3 separate regions of the Homo sapiens genome follow, and all the other regions are linked to region 3. The links come from fine-mapping of genetic effects on gene expression. A gene starts in region 3. Each other region holds a variant in brackets. All regions are shown on one strand. Distances are between the middles of the regions.

Region 1 (4,116 bases), 16 kb before region 3:
TCATTCATTCATTCATTCATTTATTCTGCAACTATGGACTGAGCACTTTCTTGTACGAGGTGCTTTGTTGGGATCTGGGGACACAGTGATGACCAAGAGAGACAAAGATGGAGCTGCCACCCAGGAGCGGGTAGACAAAACAAGCAGGAACCATGATGAGTCAGGTAGCACTGAGAGATGCAGGGAGGAATTCAGTAAGGAGGGAGTGTCAGGGGCAGGAAAGGCCTCATGAGCTGCGACGTTTGAGCAGAGACTTGAAGGAGGTGCAAGGGCCGGCCCAAGCAAAGGGAAGGGCGCAGGTGGAGGCCCTGGGTGGGGCATGCCCGGTGCATTTGAGGACCAGCCAGAGGGCCAGCATGGCGGGGGCAGAGTCAATCCCTCCAACAGCCAGGGGAGCAGGCACTATATTACCTCCTCTTACAGAAGAGGAAAAGAGGCTCAGAGAGGGGAAGTGACTTGCCCAGAGTCACACAGCCCGGAAGTGGCAGTGTGAGGAGCAGTCACTCCTCGCAGTCAGGATGTGCCGGGGTGCATCCATGCCATCGGTGGCCCTGTGTGTGTGACGAGGCTGCACGGCCCAAGGGTGGCTCCCAGAAAGCGTGTGTCACCTGCCTTGGTCACAGCTGTGGGTGGTATGATTGTGCAATCCAGCACCCTGCAGGGAGCCAGGGGCCGGGACAGAGGCTGGGCCGGGACTTGACACAGCCCTGACTCCACCCCAGGCTCAGCCCTGCCATCACTCTGCCTCCCAAGCCCCATGGGGTCTAGGGGCTACCAGACAGCCAAGAATCCAGGGAGCTCACTCACACTGAGGTGCAAGTGACTGCTAGAAGCCCCTGGTTTGTCCCTATCCCTGGGCTGACCCTTTCAGCAGGTCACAGCAGCAGCTTTGGAGACTCAGTTTCCCCCTCTGTCAGATGACAGGTCCACTTAGTGGGTCTCCAACAGCAGTTGCAGGTTCTTGGGTCCAGAGAGAGCTCCCTGAAGTCACACAACCAGTGGCTGACGGAGTCAGGGTGACCCTGGCCTGCTCACTCCTGCCTGGAGGATGCCTCCCCCTGAAGCTCAGCCACCCAGGCTCCACCACTCTCCCCTCACCCACCCTCTTGCTGCCCACACGTCCAGGCCCTGGCCCACACTGTCCACTCTCCTGGGAGTGCCTTTCCCCTCCCCCTATGAAAAAAGAACACGGGATGGTCAGGGGCGTAGAGGGAGAGATTGTCGAGCAGGCAGAGGCTACTTAAGCCAGGGGAAGGGTCAGAGAAGGTGGCTGTCGAGAGTGGCATCCGAGCTCAGACCTGAAGGAGGTGAGGGAGCCGTGGACATCCATGGTGGACAAGGGCTCCAGGGACCTGCAAAGACCTTGAGGTGGAAAGACCCAGGGCTTCTTGAGGAACAGCAGGAAGCTATCAGGGCTGGAAGGGAGTACGCGAGGGAGAGAGGCAGCGAGGTCATCAGACAAGTGGAGGGTTTGCTGGGGGGCCAGGGTCGCACCCGGCCTCACGGGCCACAGGGAGCTTTCACTCAGAGAGCTGGGATCCCTGGGAGGGTCTGTGCTGGAAGGTATAGGTCCCTTCTGACAGGTCCCTCTGGTCGTGTGTGGAGAACAGACTGTGAGGGGCTGAGGGAGAAAAGGAAGCCAGGAGGAAGTGACTGCACCAGTCCAGGCGGTGGTGCTGGTGGCCGTGGCCGAAGCGGGGGCCGTGGAGGTGGGGAGACGAGGGCAGACTCCGGGTCTACCTTGAAGGTGGAGTCGACAGGATGTGATGAGCGATCAGATGTGGGAGCAAGTGAGAAGAAGAAGGCAGGGGAGACTCCCAGGTTTGGGGGACCACCTGGAGGATGCAGGAGCCATCAG[T/C]AGAGGCAGGACTGGCTTCGGGGGGCAGATCAGGAATGGAGTCCTGGCCAACCTGGGTTTGAGGCTTCTCCTGGTCATCCCAGCAGGGACAGAGACAGGTGGGTGGAGACCCCTGAGTCTAGGCTCAGGGGAGGCCTTGGGGAGGTGCCCTTGGAAGTCGCCAGCATTTAGATGAGGACGAGAACTGTCTTTGGTGTCTGTGTCCCCCTTCTTCCCTCTCATGCTAGCAGCAGGTCCAACCTGGGGAGGAGCTCCAGGGTATCCTAGGGACCCAGGAATAAGTCCATGAGCGTGTGTGACAAATGCCCACCATGGTTCAGGGCCATGCCAAGCGCTTTGCCCACTTGATGCCTTTCATTCTCACGACACCCTGAAGGGGTAGGGACCACCCCAGTCCCGTTTTACAGAGCCAAGAGGTGAAATGATTTACGCAAGTGTCACCCAGCAGTATGGGAAGGCTGCTCTACGGGAGGGTCAGGGAGCGGCACACAAGGCCATCAGGGAAGGCACTGCAGTGCTCAGCAGCGCCGGATCACAACGCCCGCCCCCTGGCTGGGGGACACCCCAGGTTCCTGAGTCTCCCACATCGCCTCCTCCAGGCAGCAGGCAGGATTACCTCTTGGTGATTCTGGGGCCTCCAGAAAAGGGCTGAGGGCAAACCGGGAGCTCCCCAAGGTCAGCAGGGAGGAGGCTGGGGAGGAGCTTGGGGGGAACCTGGGTGTTTTGAGGGCCAGGCAACGTCTCAAGCCAGGTACCTGCAGGCCTCCAGCATGAGGGAGGAAGGGACAAAGACTCCAGGGCATGCTTGGCGGGCAGTGAGATCCCCTCCCCCACTTCCGTGGAGCTCTAGAAAGCATCTCCCTGCCCAGGGTGTTCTCCCACCGATGGCTCGAGGCCATCTTTCATCCCAACGGTGGTGTGTGGCCGGCCGTGGGGTCTCCTGCAATTACCTGGAGGAATCCGCCTTCAAGCAAGCTGAAGTTCACAGCGGGAGCATGATGCACACCACTTGTTCAGCAACTGTTCATGAAGCACCTGCTAGTGGCAGACCTCTCAGCTAAGGTCACCAGAAGGAAGAGGCTTTGGCAAGGTCCAAATTGACCTGAAAATAGGACTCTTTCCATTGACCTGACCTTCAAACAGCATTCCTTCCTCTGCGGGATTCAAATTATCCACTTATGATCCATGCAGGATAGGGAAAGGGAACAGGAGTTGGCAGCTCCCCATGGGGCAGAAGAGGAGGAATAAGACCCAGATATTACGTATGGAGACCCAACCTTGTGGCAGACACTGCGCTCGGACCTCAGTTCCTAATCCATAAAATCAAGCTTATGACATGTCCTTCCTCCAGGGTTGTAATGGGCTAATCCAGGGATTAGCAAACTTTACTGTAAATGTCCAGAGAGTTCATATGTTCAGCTTTGTGGGTTTTAAGGTCTCTCTCACAACTGCTCAACATTGCAGTTGTAGGGTAAAGGCAGCTGTGGACAATATGTAAATGAATGGGCATACTGTGTGCCAATAAAACTTTATTTATAAAAACAGGCTGTGAACCAGATTTGGCCTGGAGGCTGTAGTTTGCTGAACCCTGAGTTAATGGATACAAAACAAAGCACCTGGTGCATAGCAGGTGCTTAATAACGTTTGAGGAATGAGTGAGTGAAATGATCGGGCCTCTTTAACTCTCGCTTTCCCCATCTGCTAGAAGAAATCATTACACTGAGTTATCATCTATTGAGTGCTTTCCAGGCCACACAGGGCTTCAGGAAGCCCAGCACAGCCCTCTCATCGTTCCTCCTCATAAAACCCTGAGATCGGGCTCTCAGTGGTCCCATTTTACAGGAACAAAGGCTAAGGGCCCAAGGCCACATGGCTGGAATGTGGCAAAGCTGGGATTGGAACCCAGGTCTCCAAGACCAGACCTCAGGCTCTCTGAACTGCCTGGCGTTCCAAGGCTATCCCTGGAGTGTGGAGCCGAGACTGGAATGCTGTCCCTGGCTGCAGGGTCTGGCTTCAGATTCCCAGCTCAACCCCAGATGTCAATCCCCTCGTGGGCCCCAACTCCAGGACCCAAGCCAGGGGTCTCTGCCTGCATCCCCTCCTGGGCAGTGGGTCAGATACACAAGGAAGAGAGAAAGAGGTATAGACGAAGACAGGGACTGAGAAATACAAGGAGACAGAAAGAGGCAGAAACAGAGAGACACAGAGAGAGACAGAACTCAAGAGGGACAAACTCATCTCCCATGCCTCCCTCCCTC
Region 2 (4,116 bases), 9.5 kb before region 3:
GCAGAGGAAACAGCCAGTGCAAAGGGCCCGGGGCAGTGTGGGCCTCAGGCTGTTTCAGGAGCAAGGAGGAAGCCAGCATGGCTGGAGGGTGAGTGAGGAGGAAGGCTGGGAGAGGAGACAGAGGGAGGTCAGAGAGGAGGCCCCGAGAGCCAAGGAAGGAATCCGAGGGTTTATTCTCCAAGCAACAGAGATCCCTTAGAGAGGACTTTGCTGTGGACTGATGTGGGCTGGCCCACAGTTTTAATAGCTCCCTCTGGCTGAGTGTGGAGAGGGGATTTCTGGAAGACCAGGGAAGAGACTTCTGTGCCAGCAGAGATGAGCAGCAGTGGTGGCAGTGGAGGCAGAAGGAAGGGCTTGGGTCGGGGGTCTGTTTGCAGGAGCTGCTGGGAGGACCTGCCGAGGGAGAGAAGGGAAGAGGGCATGGGTGGGGGTTGAACAGAGACCCCCTCCACCCTCCAGGCCTCAAGGAGCCCCACAGGAAGTGGGTGGTCAGGCGGCCCAGCTGGGAAGGCTGACTGGTTTGTCCAGCCTGAAGCCCACGACCCTCTCCCCACCCTCTGCCCATGGCAGCCCAGGGCTAGAAATGTACCTGGAATGTCAGCCATGAAGCCCGGCCAGACAGTGCCCATGGGACCTGCTGGGGGCCAGGTGAGCACCCTGGCCACAGCCCTGCCTACAAGGGTAATCTCTCGGACCCATTGACCAGGGTAAGTGGTAATTACAGGCCCTGGAGCAGAGAGGGTGGTGACCTCCAGCCAAGACACGCAGGGACTGCGATTCGCACGCAGGACCCCTAACGAGGCACACCCTCTTTGTTGCTGAACAGGCAACAAACTGCCCCAGAGACCAGGGCGTGTCAGCAGAAAGAGCACTGGGCTATGAGTCTGAGACCCCCAGGGCCTTCTCTGAACCTTAGCCCCCTCATCTGCCAAAGAAATACTTATCCATGCACGCACGCTTGCATTGCTTCCCAAGTGTTTACTGGGCACTTGTCCTGGACAGGCGCTGTGCTGGGGGCTGGGTGTACAGCAGTGAACAAAACACACAAAAATCCCCACCTGGGCGATGGTGACATTCCACTGGAAAGAGACAGACAAGAAACAGGATATACCAGCAGGTTAATTTCTAGGATACGTGCTAAGTCCTAGGAAGAAATAAAAACAGCATGAGGCCATAGGAATGAGGGGCTGGTCAGAGAAGGTGTCCCCAGGGGTGACTTTGGAGCAGAGGCCTGACCCTAGACAAGGATCCGCCATGGGGAGAGCTGGCGAGAGTGTCCTCTGTTCCAGAGGGAAGAGTGGGTGCGAAGTCAATGAGGCAGCAGCAGGATAATTGGCAAGTTTATGGCAGAGAGATGAGGCCACCGTGGCTGTGGGTGAACAGAGAAGGGAGAGGCAGTGAGGTCAGGCGGGGCCAGGGCAGAGATCCTGCAGGCCCTGTGGGCTTCTGCTCTGAGTGAGTTGGGAGCCATAGAGGGTTCTGAGCAGAGAAGGGATAGGATCTAACTTGAGCTCTTACAGAATTCCTCTGGCTTAGGAAGGCGAGAGAGGAGGCAGGGAGACCAATGAGGAGACGACTGCAAACATCCTAGCTGGACCAGGGCAGGGCAGGGTAGTGGGGGTGGACCCTTGGACATGTGGATGAGTTTGCTGATGGGCTGACCATGGGAACAAGAGGGAGAACCCAGGTTGGGGGCCTGGGCAGCCAGGTGGCTGAGGTTGCCATCGCTGTAGCAGGGAAACTGCAGGTTTGTGGTGGGGGTAGACAGAGCTCCCTCTGAGCATGAGGCCCCACCCAGAGTAAAAGAAGGACTCCCAGTCCACACACCCCTGCCTCAAGCACAGATCAGTGAAGGGATTCTGTGGACAGGTGGCCCTGGAAGCTGTGATCTGCAGGGGCGAGGTGCCTGCTGTCTACCTGGTGAAAGTCCTACCAATGCAGCTCTTGAGGCTGCCCAGTCTCACACCCCAGGGAGCAAACTTGGCACCTGTTCTTTGCCCTACCCTGAACATCCGCTGGGCTCCCGGGGTTGGTCCCGATGTTCATTTGGAATCTCAGGGGTGATGGGTGGGGAAGGTGGAAAAACGCTGTACCTCTTTCCCACCCATCCCTGTCCCCCGTCAGCCAAACAGGGCTGAGGACTCGCGATCATTCTTCCTCTGCG[C/T]CCCTGTCCCCATACCTCTCAGAGACAGCGTGACTTGTGGCCTCTGCAGCCAGGAACGTGCTCTGGTCCCGTCATCTCACACTGCCCCATCCCCCTCATAGTCACTTGGTTTTCTGCACGTAAGTTCCCTTTTCATAGATGGAGGAACTGAGGTTCCGAGAGGTGGGGCAGGCTCCCAAGTTCACACTCAGGTTAAGTGGCAGGGGCGGGATTCACACTCAGGTCCATCTGATTCCAAAGCTCTTAAGCCCTGAGCATTATAGCTGCTGGCTTAGGTCGGCTCCCAGAAGCTGACCCAAGACAAGGTTTTGGGTGCAAGTGGGATATTTGGGAGGTGATTCTAGAAACACTGGGAAGGAGTGAGGAAGTGACACAAGGAAGGTAGATGAGCAGGTCTCCTCAGTGGGCAACAGGAGCCCAACCCCCTAGAGGCCTCTGGGACAACTCGCAGAAAGTACCTTCCCACTGTCCCCTGAGCCAGAAGCAAGGAAGCTGAGTGGGGGGACAAACAGACCCCACCTCTACTGGCAGGGGTCTCTCACTTGCTTCCCACACTCTTGTGGCCAGAGGAAGCCCTTGGGCAAGAGATTCAGGATAGCAGCTGCAAGGGCGACCTCCCAGGTGGGCACCAACAGCTTCTGAGCCCCCCAACTTCCAGGACAGCACTCACCCCAGAGAACAGGATGATGTTCAGTAGGATGTGACTGTGCTGCGTGACCTTGGCAAGTAGCTTCATCTCTCAGAGCCTCAGTTTTCTACTCTGAAGAAAGGAATCATTAAAAAAAAACAAAAAAAAAACTGTTTCACAAGGGTTGCCGGGGATTCGATGGGACATGAGGTAAAGGTCTGAGAATCACACGTGGCACATAGGAGGTGCGTTTTATGTATTTGTGGTTAAATGAGAGCATGCCTGGTGCATAGAAGCCACTCCACTATAACAGCTATTATCATTATTATTATAGTTTTGTTGTTGTTGTTGTTTAGGACCTCTCCAAGACTGCGCAAGCCTAGGTCTGCTCTGTGGGGACAAGATGGTGGCTGGACAACCTCCCCAGTTTCCTGGGTCCCACAGCCTCTTGCTTAAGGCTGCCTGAACTTTGGGGAAACAGAGGAGGAGGAGAAGGAGGAGGAAGGGGCGGAGGCTTAGGCCAGGCCTGCTAGAGGTAACCGCGGGCAGTGACCCCGCCTGAGAGGCCCCCATTCACCCGTCCACCCATCGCCAGAGCTGCCTGCCCATTCCACACAGGGGACGCCTCGTCTTGCACAACACAGGAAGGAGGAGGCCTGGGTGGCGGTGGGTGACGCCGGGACCCCGTGTCCACCCGGCTGCAGACAGGATGGGCAAGGGAGGCCCCGCCAGGCTTCCTGTGTGCCGAGCACACTGGGCAGAAAGGAGAAGTGGGGTCCAAGGTCACTGGGAGCTCTGGGCAGCACCTTCCCCTCCCTGGCCCAACTGTTCCGCCTGTTCTCCCTGACTCAGGCACCCAGGGTTCAAACCCCACCAGCTCGGCCATGTACCAGCTGCATGACTCTGGAACACGCAGCTCTCAGGGCCTCTGTGTCAGTCACTGCCAGGGTGCGGGGAAGCCCTCTGGGGGCTTGTCATCATCATCCCCATTTCACAGATAAGGAAACCAAGGCCATGGGGTATTTTCTCTCTCTCTTTTTCTCCTTTTTTTTTTTTTAAGACAGATGGGGGGTCTTGCCCTGTTGCCCAGGCTGGAGTGGAGTGGCACAGTCATAGCCCACTTCAGCCTCAATCTCCTGGGCTCAAGCAATTCTCCCACCTCAGCCTCTCAAGTAACTGGGACTACAGGCGTGCACCACTACACTCAGCTAGTTCTTTTTTTTTCCCCTCTAGAGATGGGTTCTCACTCTGTTGCCCAGCCTGGTCTGGAACTCCCGGCCTCAAGCGATCCTCCCACCTCGGCCCACCATCATAAGGTATTTTC
Region 3 (4,116 bases):
CAGGGGACATCCACTGGGACATGTAAGAAAAATTGTTGGCTGGGCACGGTGGCTCACGCCTGTAATCCTAGCACTTTTGGGAGGCTGAGGTGGGTGGATCACCTGAAGTCAGGAGTTTGAGACCAGCCTGGCCAACATGGTGAAAATTCATCTCTACTAAAAATACAAAAAATTAGCTGGGAGTGGTGGCCCACGCCTGTAATCCCAGCTATGTGGGAGGCTGAGGTAGGAGAATCGCTTGAACCCAGGAGGCGGAGGTTGCAGTAAGCCGAGATCGTGCCATTGCACTCCAGCCTGGGCAACAGAGCAAGACTCTGTCTCAAAAAAAAAAAAAAAAAAAAAAGTGAGATCCTGGAGGAGAAAGTCCCCTTTTCTGTTCATCTCTTCCTAGTTAGGATGTGATCATGTGGGACGTGATGTCTTGAGCCACAGCAGGCACTGGGGCCCATGAAGAAAGAGAAGTGAAGAGATGCCTACCTAGAGCGCAGGGAGCCTGCCCTGGAACACTGGAATGGCCCCACGTTAGACTTCATGTTATAAGATTTAATTAATATTTTTACTGTTGCAGTCATAGAAGATGGCCTAATTGGGGCAAGAGGAAACATAGGAATGAACCTGAGACAGGGGAGAAAATGGAGAGAGGAGGGATGAGAGCTGGAAGGGGGTCAGAAACACCCAAGCACGGGGTTCAGATGCACAGCAGGCTCCCTAAGTGTGAGTTGCTGTTTCTGCAAACAGGAGTTGTTCCCTGAGCACCTACTCTCTACCAGGTACATTTCCAAGCCCTGGGTGTCCATCAAGTCCTTTAATCCTCCCAGCAGTGCCAGGGAGGCTTCATCTGCTCCCCACATCTCTGCTTCCCCCGCCCCATGTTCAGATTCTAAAAAACCAAAAGGGCTCCCTCTAATTCATCTCGCCCCCAGAGAGCACTGACTCCCCACGGTGTCCCACTGAGCCCCACTGAGTCCAGTCCACCTCAACTTTCCTGCCTCTGGGAACAGGGTACCCACCCTCTGAGGGCCCCACTTCCCAAAGTTCTTTGTCCTGGCACAGCAGGTGCTGAGTAGCTCCCTGGACCTCTGTTTCCGCATCTGTAAAAAGCCACTAATCCTAATTGCACCTCCTAGGCTGATTGTGATGACCCAGGAAGGACCCTTGACCCAGTGTCTGGCCTGTAGTAGGGCTCGGTAAGCGTGAAATCTGATTATTGCCCATTATATTTATGGTTATACACAGGGCTGGCCCTGCCTCCTGCTGGAGCCGTGGGTCTGTCCAGGTTGAGAAGCTGAGGTGCTTGGAGCGTCCCCAGATCCCAAACAGGGAGCTGGAGTAGGAGGCGGGAGCATGAAGTCTCCTGGGCCCCGCCCGCCACCTCGCCCTGCCGCCCCTGCTCAGCAGCCGCCCCGCCCTGCCACCTTGGTCTCTGAGAACCCATTGTTCCTACCTGGCTCTGCTCCAGGGTCCTGGCCTTGCCACTTTCCTCTAGGATCCCCCGCCACCCCCGGGGCTTGGGCCTCCCCGCGGGGTCCTAAATTGGGTGCCAGATGTGGCAGCTGTCCAGCAATGGGAACAGGAGCTGGAACCCCAGCTCTGCCACATCCCAGCTGTGTGACCTTGGGCGCTTCCCCTCTCTGAGCCTCAGCTTCCTTGTTGGTTAAATGGGATGACGGGACCTCACAGGGCTGTCATGAGGGTTTCGTGAGCCCAGGATGGCAGAGTGCCCAGCATGTGGTAGGGCTCGGGAACATTCATCCTAATTTCTCTGCTCCTCACGGGCCTAGAGGAAGAGCCAGGAACATCAGAGGCAGTGGCCAGAGTGGGTAGAGCACTGGAAGGGGAGTCTAAGGCCAGGGTCCCGGCTCCAACCCTGCTGTGTGACCTCGGGCAGGCTGTGGGTATCTCTGGGCCCCAGAATGAGGGAAAGAAGTAGCTGGGATCCTCCTTCCTCCCCAGGAAGCAAAGCAGAGGGGTGGTGCCAAGTTTTCTTTTCATTTTTTTTATTTTCAGCACAAAGGGCTCAAATGGAAAGCAGCTGCAGAGACAGAGAATCCGATTGTGAAGGCACCCGAGACTCCAGGCAGGCGGAAGAGGCAGCGTCTTGGGTGCTGGGCTGGGTAACAGAGGCCAGGGTATTGACCAGAAACTCCAACAAGCAGGGGACAGCTTGGGGGGTGGGGGGTTGTCTCCCACCCCTTCTTCAGGGTGCTGGCCTAGGAGACAGGGACCCCGCCTCGGGCATCTCCTGCTTAACCTCAGTTTCTGTGTCCAGACATGGGCAGGCCATCCTGACTCTCTTAGCCTTGGTTTCCATCTCCAAAATGTGTCCAGTAGTGGCACCTTCCTTCTAGGGAGGGGTTGTGTGGTTAAGGTCTCGGGGCGGGCTCCTCAGTCAAACAGGCTTGGCTTTGATCCTGCCTCTGCCTCTCACTAACTGTGTGACCTGGAGTAAGCCACCTCCCCTCCCTGTGCCTTGATTTTCCCATCTGTGAAATGGAAACAATAATAGAACTAATCTGCTGGGGAGATGAACTGAGAAGACTCAGCCTGGTGCCTGGAGCAGAGTAAAGACTAATGATTATTGTTGTCTTTCTTTTTGGAGGCAGAGTCTCACTGTGTTGCCCAGCCTGGAGTGCAGTGGCAGTGGCGCGATCTCGGCTCACTACAAGCTCCACCTCCCAGGTTCAATCATTGACCCTCCAGCCTCAGCCTCCCGAGAAGCTAGGACTATAGGCTCACACCACCAGGCCCAGCTAATTTTTTGTATTTTTAGTAGAGACCAGGTTTCACCATGTTGACCAGGCTGGTCTTGAACTCCTGGCCTGAAGTGATCTGCCTGCCTTAGCCTCCCAAATTGCTGGGATTCCAGGTGTGAGTCACCGCGTCCAGGCATCTTTCTTATTATTATTATCCCAGGAGCTCCACCTGCTAAGGCCCCAGCCTCAGAAAGCCTCCCTTCCCCTGAGTGCTGGTTCATCTCAACAATTTCCTCACATATTTCTTGAGCAGCAACTATACCGGTCTTGGCAAAGCCAAGGTTCTATCTAGGAGAAGAAAGACATTAAATGAAGGACCCGTGTGTGAAGGGCTTGGTGAGTAGCAGGGGCTCATTGACACTGTTCACCAGCACCTGCCCCCTCAGCTGCTCTGTGCTGGACTCTTTCTGGGCTCTGGGGACACAGTCTTCAGGGGAGTCCCAATCAGAGGGTCTGGGTGGAGGTGAGAAGCTGGTGTGTGGATGAGGCAGTTTCTCACACTGTGGCAAGGTCTGTGATGGAGGAAGTCCAGGTGACTTTGGGAGCTAGAGGTCAGGATGGGCTTCCTGGAGGAAGTGGTTAGGAATGAAAATAACATCTATTCAGCATTATTATTATGATGTGTCAGGCACTGTTCTCTCCTCAACACCCCGCTCCAGAAGGTTTTCTTCTCACACACCCATTCTACAGGTGAGTCTGGGATCAAAGAGGCCCAGTAGGGTGTCAGAGGTCACGTAGCCAAGACATGGCAGAGCTGAGATGAAACCCCGCAGTGGGACACTGCCCCACTTGCCCCCCGACAGCGCTCTCCAGCCTCCAGGCCTTTGCTCCAGCTCTTCCTTCTGCCCAGACATTCCAGACCCTGCACCGTCTCATATCCACTCTGCTGGAGGAATGAAGAGAACAGCCCTTGGAGGCCGCAAAGTGTCCTCAAGCCTCAGTTTTCCCATCTATGAAATGGGGATAGCATGGGGCTTTCCTCTCGGGCTGCAGAAAGGATCGAGAAAAGGCTTATTATTCACCTAGGGCCTAGCCCTTGGGAACCAGTCCGGAAGGACAGCTGTTATTATTGCTAATGCTGTTCCTATCACAGTGACAGCGTGTCCCGTTAGGCCTGCAAACCCCTATACCTCAGTTTTTCCTGTAATGAAACCTGCCTGCTGAGGCCTCGGTGAGGGCTCATTTAATGATAATCTTTAGGGAAAAAAAATACACCCCCCAAGCCGCCTGTGTGGCTGCAGCCCACAGGGGTAACCTGACGCCCCTCGCCTGACCTGGCCCCCAGGTCTTTGTGTGAGTCCTGCCCAGATTACTGTATTTGTCCAAACCCAAAGCCAAGGCTGGCATGAGCTCAATGCTCTGC

The links.
Region 1: its variant is fine-mapped to the expression of PELATON in whole blood (TOPMed, PIP above 0.99).
Region 2: its variant is fine-mapped to the expression of PELATON in blood mononuclear cells (TOPMed, PIP above 0.99). The same link has a PIP of 0.9 or more in monocytes, monocytes after LPS and whole blood.

What each region holds. Positions count from the first base shown.
Region 1 is chr20:50,280,558-50,284,673 of GRCh38, reverse strand. No RefSeq gene overlaps it. Among named protein-coding and RNA genes, the nearest start is that of LINC01270, 10 kb to the left of the region's middle. The variant T/C (reference allele first, on the strand shown) is at 1,859.
Region 2 is chr20:50,274,454-50,278,569 of GRCh38, reverse strand. PELATON (plaque enriched lncRNA in atherosclerotic and inflammatory bowel macrophage regulation) reads right to left here. Exons shown (of 4, transcript NR_170992.1): 2 at 2,835-2,919; 3 at 957-1,079; 4 at 1-393. Among named protein-coding and RNA genes, the nearest start is that of PELATON, 9.0 kb to the right of the region's middle. RefSeq lists enhancers at 561-1,098, 2,943-3,442, 3,443-3,944. The variant C/T (reference allele first, on the strand shown) is at 2,165.
Region 3 is chr20:50,264,992-50,269,107 of GRCh38, reverse strand. It overlaps PELATON (plaque enriched lncRNA in atherosclerotic and inflammatory bowel macrophage regulation), which reads right to left and starts at 1,630. Exons shown (of 4, transcript NR_170992.1): 1 at 1,445-1,630.